Linked DNA regions of Homo sapiens: regions 2 and 3 are each linked to region 1. Evidence: fine-mapped expression QTL. A gene starts in region 1. Each other region holds a variant in brackets. All regions are shown on one strand. Distances are between the middles of the regions. Region 1 holds the start of IL34 (interleukin 34). Region 2 has its middle 23 kb from the start of IL34. Region 3 overlaps WWP2 (WW domain containing E3 ubiquitin protein ligase 2).

What was found. PIP is the estimated chance that this variant, and not a neighbour inherited with it, causes the effect. A credible set is the group of variants that fine-mapping cannot tell apart.
Region 2: its variant is the best candidate, but not a certain one, in a credible set for the expression of IL34 in nucleus accumbens (GTEx, PIP 0.89).
Region 3: its variant is the best candidate, but not a certain one, in a credible set for the expression of IL34 in pancreas (GTEx, PIP 0.63).

Annotation. Positions count from the first base shown.
Region 1 is chr16:70,645,521-70,648,194 of GRCh38, reverse strand. It overlaps IL34 (interleukin 34), which reads right to left and starts at 1,636. Exons shown (of 6, transcript NM_001393494.1): 1 at 1,220-1,636. The coding sequence starts at 1,247.
Region 2 is chr16:70,622,425-70,625,098 of GRCh38, reverse strand. It overlaps a transcript of IL34 not described here. Among named protein-coding and RNA genes, the nearest start is that of IL34, 23 kb to the left of the region's middle. RefSeq lists an enhancer at 2,524-2,674. The variant G/A (reference allele first, on the strand shown) is at 1,249.
Region 3 is chr16:69,842,889-69,845,562 of GRCh38, reverse strand. The region is part of intron 6 of WWP2 (WW domain containing E3 ubiquitin protein ligase 2); the gene reads right to left. Among named protein-coding and RNA genes, the nearest start is that of WWP2, 82 kb to the right of the region's middle. The variant T/C (reference allele first, on the strand shown) is at 1,446.

The DNA of each region.
Region 1 (2,674 bases):
ACAAACACCACCAGACTGATCTTCAAGAGCAGAGGAACTCCCAATCACGATTCCACCCCCGCCGGGCTCTCAAATCCTCCAGGGCTGCCTGCTATGGGGAGGGAGGCACACTTTGCTTGGCTCTCAAGGCCTCAGCCAGCCGGGTCCAAACCAGCTCCCAGCCTGGCCTCACCATCCCACCGCCAAACCTTTGCTCACACTGGCCCCTCTTCCTGGAACATGGGCCTCATGACCCCAGGTCTACCTGTGTGACCACCACCCCACCTTCTAGACCATTTCCAGTAGCCCCTCCCCCATGCTGCACCCCTGCTTCTCATGACCTAGGGGTTTCCAGAACATTGGGTCCAGCTGGGTCCTTCCACCCATCCTTAATGTCCCAACCCTTTGTTGTATATTTCCACAAGGGCCAGGGTGGACCCAACTCTTCTTTCAATCCCTCGCAGGCTCATACCCCAAACCTCCAACAGTTCCTGAGCACTCAACCCTGTGCCAGGCGTTGGAGACAGAGGCACGAGACAGCAAGGTCCTTGTTGTCATGGCAGTGACTCTGCAGTGGGCACGTGGGAGGCACCGGAAAAATGTGTTGAATTTGAGTCAATTGAACTGGATCTTGGAGACTGAGGGGATCTTGGTCTGGCCTCCCAGCCAGCAGGCATAAGAGGCTTCCAGATCCTTTTTTTCCTTTCTGTCCTCATTTCAACTTATTTTTCTTTTTACCAACAGTGTTATCTTTCTGCTTTTTAATTCTGTTCTGTTATGGAGGGAGGGTTGGAGGGGAACAGGCTGCCTTCTCCAGGCATCTGGCTGCTCTTCTGCCGTGGGTCTTGGGTCCCTAGACACTTTCACCAGCCCCTGCCCCCCTCCACCGGCCATACCCAGGACTGGGCCGCTGCTGCCCGCCCGGGGCTCCCCAACACCCACAAGCCTGGAAAGGTGAGATGCTGCCACCTACCCCCAGTGCCTGCCCCGACCTAAGACCACCCTGAGGACCATGCCCACCCAGCCAGAACTGCCCACCCAGCTTGCCCGTCGGAGCCCGAAGTGAGCGGCAGACAGGGCAGACGGCGGCCGTGGGAATCTCAGAGGGTGTCTGCAGTCCGGCTGGGAAGCATCGCAACTTCTCACCAGCAAGAATGCCCTGGTTGCTATGGTTACGGCAGATCCTGGATCTAGGCCAAGGCCTCCCAATGCAGGTCCCTAGGGACCCCCCAGTACTCACAGCGCAGCCAGGTGAAGCCCCGGGGCATGGTGGTGTTCCTCGTCCCCCTGAGAGCTCAGGCGCCGTCCCCAGCAGTGTGTCCACAGAGGCCTAAGCACGGCCTACATGGCCTCGGGGCAGCAGAGGTGGTCACTCAGTCAGGGAAGGGCTGGCCCTGGAGGAGTGGCTGGGCTGCGGGAGTGAGCAGGTGCCCCAAGGGCAGCAGCTGCCCTTATCTGCCCGGCAGCGTGGAGGACAGCCGGGGGGCGGTGGCCGCAAGTCCCATGGCAGCCCAGAAGCAGGTCTGAGCCGGTGGCTTGGGGGTCTTTCGGGGTCTTCCTTTCCAAGGAGCAGGAGGAGAGAGTCCCTGGCAGGCCCCTCGGAATCTGGGGCTGGGTGACGCTTTCTCTGATTTCTCCGACTGCAGCTGCTCAGTGTGAAATCTGGCTCTAGGAAGAGAAAGGAGGAGAGAAACTGATTATGTAAGAGCAGCGCTGCCACTCAGCCATCAGCCACAGCGCACACCGCACCCACGGCCTGCACAGGACCACCCGGCCCTGGCAGCTGGACACGGCTCACGTGAGAAATGACTTCAGGATGTCCGAACGGCCCTGGCCCATGAGTGAGTTATGATGACACCAGCTGGCAGCCTGGGGCCTGAACAAAAGCAGGACCAAGGAATGAACAGGTGGTTTGAGTTCACACATCGAGAGCCATGGTAGAGTCCATGAATGACTCAGGCTAAAGGACAGGTTAAAAAAGCAGACGAGCTCCCACTCCGAAAACAAGCCGGACGCAATGGCTCATGCTTGTAATCCCAGCACTTTGGGAGGCCAAGGTGGGAGGATTGCGTGAGCCCAGGAGTTCGAGACCAGCCTGGTCAGCATAGTAAGACCTCAGTTCTATTAATAAAAAAAAAATTAAGAAAAAAAAAATTTTTTTGAGACGGAGTCTCAGACTCTGTCATCCAGGCTGTAGTGCAGTGGCGTGATTTTGGCTCACTGCAGCCTCCACCTCCAGGGTTCAAGCAATTCTCCTGCTTCAGCCTCCCAAGTAGCTGGGATTACAGATGTGCACTACCATGCCTGGCTAATTTTTGTATTTTTAGTAGAGATGGGGTTTCACCATGTTGGCCAGGCTAGTCTCAAACTCCTGGACTCAAGTGATCTGCTGTCTTGGCCTCCCAAAGTGCTGGGATTACAGGCGTGAGCCACCGCACCCGGCCAGGACTAAGGTCTTTACATTCACTGAATCTCTCACAACAATCTCATGGAAGTGCAAAATCTCAGTTTATCAATGAGGAAACTGAGGCCCAGAAAGGTTAAGACACTTGTCCAAGGTCATACGGCTTGTAAGAAGTGTGACAGGAATTCAAACCCTGTGGGCTGGTGGCTGCTCCCAAAATTCGACAACCACACAGGGCTCAGCGTGTGTGCGTGGTCCTCCCATCTGCCCCTCTGGACTCTGCAAGGTCTG
Region 2 (2,674 bases), 23 kb after region 1:
AGTTCCAAATAGCCAAAAAATGGCACTTTGAATTTTTCCATCCTGCAAAATCTAAATAATTCTTGCTGTAAAATAGACAAATGGTCTGAGGTGCCTGATGTCCAGGCATTCTTTTACACATCAGTCCCTTCCTAGTCTCTGTGCCCAATGCAACTCGTACCAAATCTTCCTTCTTTCCCTCCCGCCTGTCCCCTCAGTCCCAACCCCAAGCGTCACTGAGTCTTTCTAATCTTCCTTTTCTACAGACCCATCTGACCTCTCCCCTCCTCTCCAGGCCAAGCTAGGTCCCAATTCTTCCTCAGCCTCCCCTCCTCCACCCTATAATCCTTTTATCACCTCCCCTCCTCACACCCTGTCTGGCTTATAGTTTCGTTCAGTGACTAGCCCTTCCCCACCTGTCCAGCAATTTATTCTTAAAAAGGTGGCTGAAGCTAAAGGCATAGTCAAGGTGAATGCTCCTTTTTCTTTATCCCAAATCAGATAGCGTTTAGGCTCTTTTTCATCAAATATAAAAATCCAGCCCAGTTCATGACTTGTTTGGCTGCAACCTTGAGACGCTTTACAGCCCTAGACCCTAAAAGGTCAAAAGGCCATCTTATTCTCAAAATACATTTTATTACCCAATGTGCTCCCGACATTAAATAAAATTCCAAAAATTGGAATCTGGCCCTCAAACCCCACAACAGGATTTAATTAACCTCACCTTCAAGGTGTACAGTAACAGAAAAAAAGTTGCAATTCCTTGCCTCCACTGTGAGACAAACCCCAGCCACATCTCCAGCACACAAGAACTTCCAAATGCCTGAACCACAGCAGCCAGGTATTCCTCCAGAACCTCCTTCCCCAGGAGCTTGCTACACGTGCCGGAAATCTGGCCACTGGGCCAAGGAATGCCGGCAGCCCGGGATTCCTCCTAAGCCGCGTCCCATCTGTGTGGGACCCCACTGAAAATCGGACTGTTCAACTCACCTGGCAGCCACTCCCAGAGCCCCTGGAACTCTGGCCCAAGGCTCTCTGACTGACTCCTTCTCGGCTTAGCGGCTGAAGACTGACGCTGCCTGATCACCTCGAAAGCCCCGTAGACCATCACAGACGCCGAGCTTCGAGTAACTCTCACAGTGGAAGGTAAGTCCGTCGCCTTAATCAATACGGAGGCTACCCACTCCACATTACCTTCTTTTCAAGGGCCTGTTTCCCTTGCCTCCATAACTGTTGTGAGTATTGACGGCCAGGCTTCTAAACCTCTTA[G/A]AACTCCCCAACTCTGGTGCCAACTTAGATGATACTCTTTTAAGCACTCCTTTTAGTTATCCCCACCTGCCCAGTTCCCTTATTAGGCCGAGACACTTTAACTAAATTATCTGCTTCCCTGACTATTCCTGGACTACAGCTACATCTCATTGCCACCCTTCTTCCCAATCCAAAGCCTCCTTTGCATCCTCCTCTTGTATTCCCCCACCTTAACCCACAAGTATAAGATACCTCTACTCCCTCCTTGGCGACTGATCATGCACCCCTTACCATCTCATTAAAACCTTATCACCCTTACCCTGTTCAATGCCAATATCCCATCCCACAGCATGCTTTGAAAGGATTAAAGCCTGTTATCACTCGCCTGCTACAGCATGGCCTTTTAAAGCCTATAAACTCTCCTTACAATTCCCCCATTTTGCCTGTCCTAAAACCAGACAAGCCTTACAAGTTAGTTCAGGATCTGTGCCTTATCAACCAAATTGTTTTGCCTATCCACCCTATGGTGTCAAACCCATATACTCTCCTATCCTCCATACCTCCCTCCACAATCCATTATTATGTTCTGGATCTCAAGCATGCTTTCTTTACTATTCCTTTGCTCCCATCATCCCAGCCTCTCTTCGCTTTCACTTGGACTGACCCTGACACCCATTAGGCTCAGCAAATTACCTGGGCTGTACTGCTGCAAGGCGTCACAGACAGCCCCCATTACTTCAATCAAGCCCAAATTTCATCCTCATCTGTTACCTATCTCAGCATAATTCTTCATAAAAACACAGGTGCTCCCCCTGCTGCTCGTGTCCGATTAATCCCCCAAACCTCAATCCCTTACAAAACAACTCCTTTTCTTCCTAGGTATGGTTAGTGTGGTCAGAATTCTTATACAAGAGCCAGGACCGCACCCTGTAGCCTTTCTGTCCAAACAATTTGACCTTAATGTTTTAGCCTAGCCCTCATGTCTGCATACAGCGGGTGCCGCTGCATTAATACTTTTAGAGGCCCTAAAAATCGCAAACTATGCTCAACTCACTCTCTACATTTCTCATAACTTCCAAAATCTATTTTCTTCCTCATACCTGAAGCATATACTTTCTGCTCCCCGGCTCCTTCAGCTGTACTCACTCTTTAAGTCCCACAATTACCATTGTTCCTGGCCCGGACTTCAATCTGGCCCCCCACATTATTCCTGATACCACACCTGACCCCCATGACTGTATCTCTCTGATCCACCTGACATTAACCCCATTTCCCCAAATTTCCTTCTTTCCTGTTCCTCACCCTGATCACGCTTGATTTATTGATGGCAGTTCCACCAGGCCTAATCGCCACACACCAGCAAAGGCAGGCTATGCTATAGTACAAGCCACTAGCCCGCCTCTCAGAACCTCTCATTTCCTTTCCATCGTGGAAATCTATCCTCAAG
Region 3 (2,674 bases), 800 kb after region 1:
ACCTTCATGGGCAGGTCAGAGCACCTTTGTTTGATCACAGTGAATAGCACCCAAGTCCAAGAAAAACCTACCCTTCAGACAGCAAAAGCTAAATATTTAGTCTGGGAGACAGCAGGCAGAAGCCCATCATTCTCTCTGCCCCCAGAAAGCAAGGACAGCAAAGGACTGCCCTTGATCCCAAAGGTCTGATTCATCACCTCCCAACTACAGTCCTTGATGTAAACGCACCGGTAATGCCTCACTTCCCAGGCTTAGCAGGGAAGGGGGGTAGGCATGCACAAACGAGTCTCCAGATACAAAGAAAACCCACTGCCACTTCCACCGAGTGCTCCCGTTGTGTAAGGCCCTCTGACTGACATGCCTCATCTCAGTTCATTCCCACAATAACCCTGTGAGACAGGTGATACCCCCACTTTACACCTGAAAAAAACTGGGGATCCGAGAGGTTTTGTGACTTATCCAAAATCATATAGCAAGTAAATGACAGGCCAGGATTCGATCTGCATCTCCTGATTCCAAAGCCCTACACCTTTATCCAATAGACTCCTTGGCCACCGCCTACAGTCATAAGCATGTGTGCACAGTGACCTTCATACCTGCAACAGCAAAGTGGAAAGGGGGCTTTTAAGGAGGCAAAGAGACAGCCTTTGGATAATATTTGCAAAAATATTTCCTGCTGAATGGCAACAGGTTCCATGTGAGTGCAGAATGAATAGTTACTTAGATGGCAGAGGCCAGGGAAAACTCAGATGCTACACGTAGTAAAAGCCTGCAGCAGCTAACAGACTGCAGAGGACTCCGATAAGGCTTACACTATCGGAAGGTACCTTGCTCACCAGTAACTAACTAGCACTGAATGTCTACCACGTGTGATGGGCCAAAATGCATCCGATTTCCTGTTGCAGCCTGGCTGCTGCAACACCGATGACCTGGTGTCATTCTCAACACCAATGACAACAAACGAGGTTTAACAGGATCTCTGAATTTCAAGGTCGATCAACTAGAGGAATTCAGAGACCAGTAAATAGGTCAAGAATTTAGATCCAAACTTGTTAATAGCTGAATCTGACTTTGAGCCCCAAATTAAGTTATATGGGTGTGTTTGAGACAAACTTTCCAACTCAGCTAAAAGACTAAGATGTAGTTACTAGCACCAAAGCTGAGAAGGCATCACTCTCTAAAGAGTGAAATACTCAAGTATTCCTTCCTCTCTAAAAGAGTGAAATGCTCAAGTATTCCTCGCCCACCGCTGTTCTAGCTTAAGAAATTGTTTCCTCCAGTTCCAGGTGCCCATCATGGCTTTGTTGACACAAGATTTGCCAGTTACACTGTCATTCATCACCCCGTGAGACCCAACTATTGTAAGTCACCTACCGAGACACGGAAAACATGACTGGTCTTTGGGAGTGAGGCAACGCCTTTACAGTGACTTGGAGAAAAGAGAA[T/C]GGGGAAATGGCATCTCTGCTTCTAATAAAGGTACGGAAAAAAGATCCAAACGTCCATCTTGTCTTGCTCCCGCCACTTGCCAGTCACCACAACCTCATAAGCCCACAAAACAACCAAATCTGGAGAAGCTGACAGCTGTCCTCAGAGGGATCTTTTAAGATGCTGCGGGTATTGGCTAAAATCATATTCCATTTTTCAAAGCATTATTCCCCCTCCCTAGGGTCTGTTTGGGAAGTTTTTTTGTTTTTTTGTTTTTTTTACAGACATAGTCTCACTCTGTTACCCAGTGCCCTGATGCTAGCTCAGTGCAGCCTCAAACTCTTGGGCTCAAGCAATCCTCCCACCTCAGCCTCCCAAGTAGCTGGGACTACAGGCACACACTACCATGCCCAGCTCATTTTTCTATCTTTTATAGAGACAGAGCCTCCCTAGGTTGCCCAGGCTGGTCTTGGAACTCCTGGCCTCAAGCGATCCTCCCACTTTGATCTTCCAAAAGAGCTGGAATTACAGGCATGAGCCACTGTGCCTGGCCTCGTTTGGGAAGATTTTACTGCCAGTTACTCACCTACTTTCCGCAAGTGATAAAGATTTACAAACTACATTCGTAGTTTGTACATTTAAGATTATTTTCCTCAAAATGTCCTCTAAATATCTGGGGATTTTGCACATTGCAATAAACAATAAACAAAGGTGCCAACCCTCTCCCCTCATCTCTTTATACTTAGAACTATTTTCCTGCCTAGACGTTCAGTTGCCATGGAAATGAGTTTGCACCACTAACACAGGTATAAAATGGGAATTTCAGTAAATAACATTACGTCATTTGTAATACGTATAACAAGTATAATATTTGGACTCTAAGCGTAGGAGGTCTTAACCAACATTACAAGGGAACCATGGGCCACCCCCAAAGCAGAATGCATGACAGAAAATTGCACAAAGAACCATTGCTCTAAGCATTTCTATGTGTATCCTGGAAGAATAACTGTGGCTGCAGCCCCGGACATACAAAAAAGCAGTCAAGTTTCCTGTTCAACAGTTCCTTTTATCCAATAACCTACTTAGCCAGTCCCAATCTTCATCAAGGAGCCTCTGACCCTTCTAAGAATCCTGAATTCTTTCACAACCATAAAAAAGAATAAAAAATAAGTCAGATACAGTGGCTTATGGCTGTAATCCCAACAGTTTGGGAGGCCAGGACAGGAGAATCGGTTGAGTCCAGGAGTTC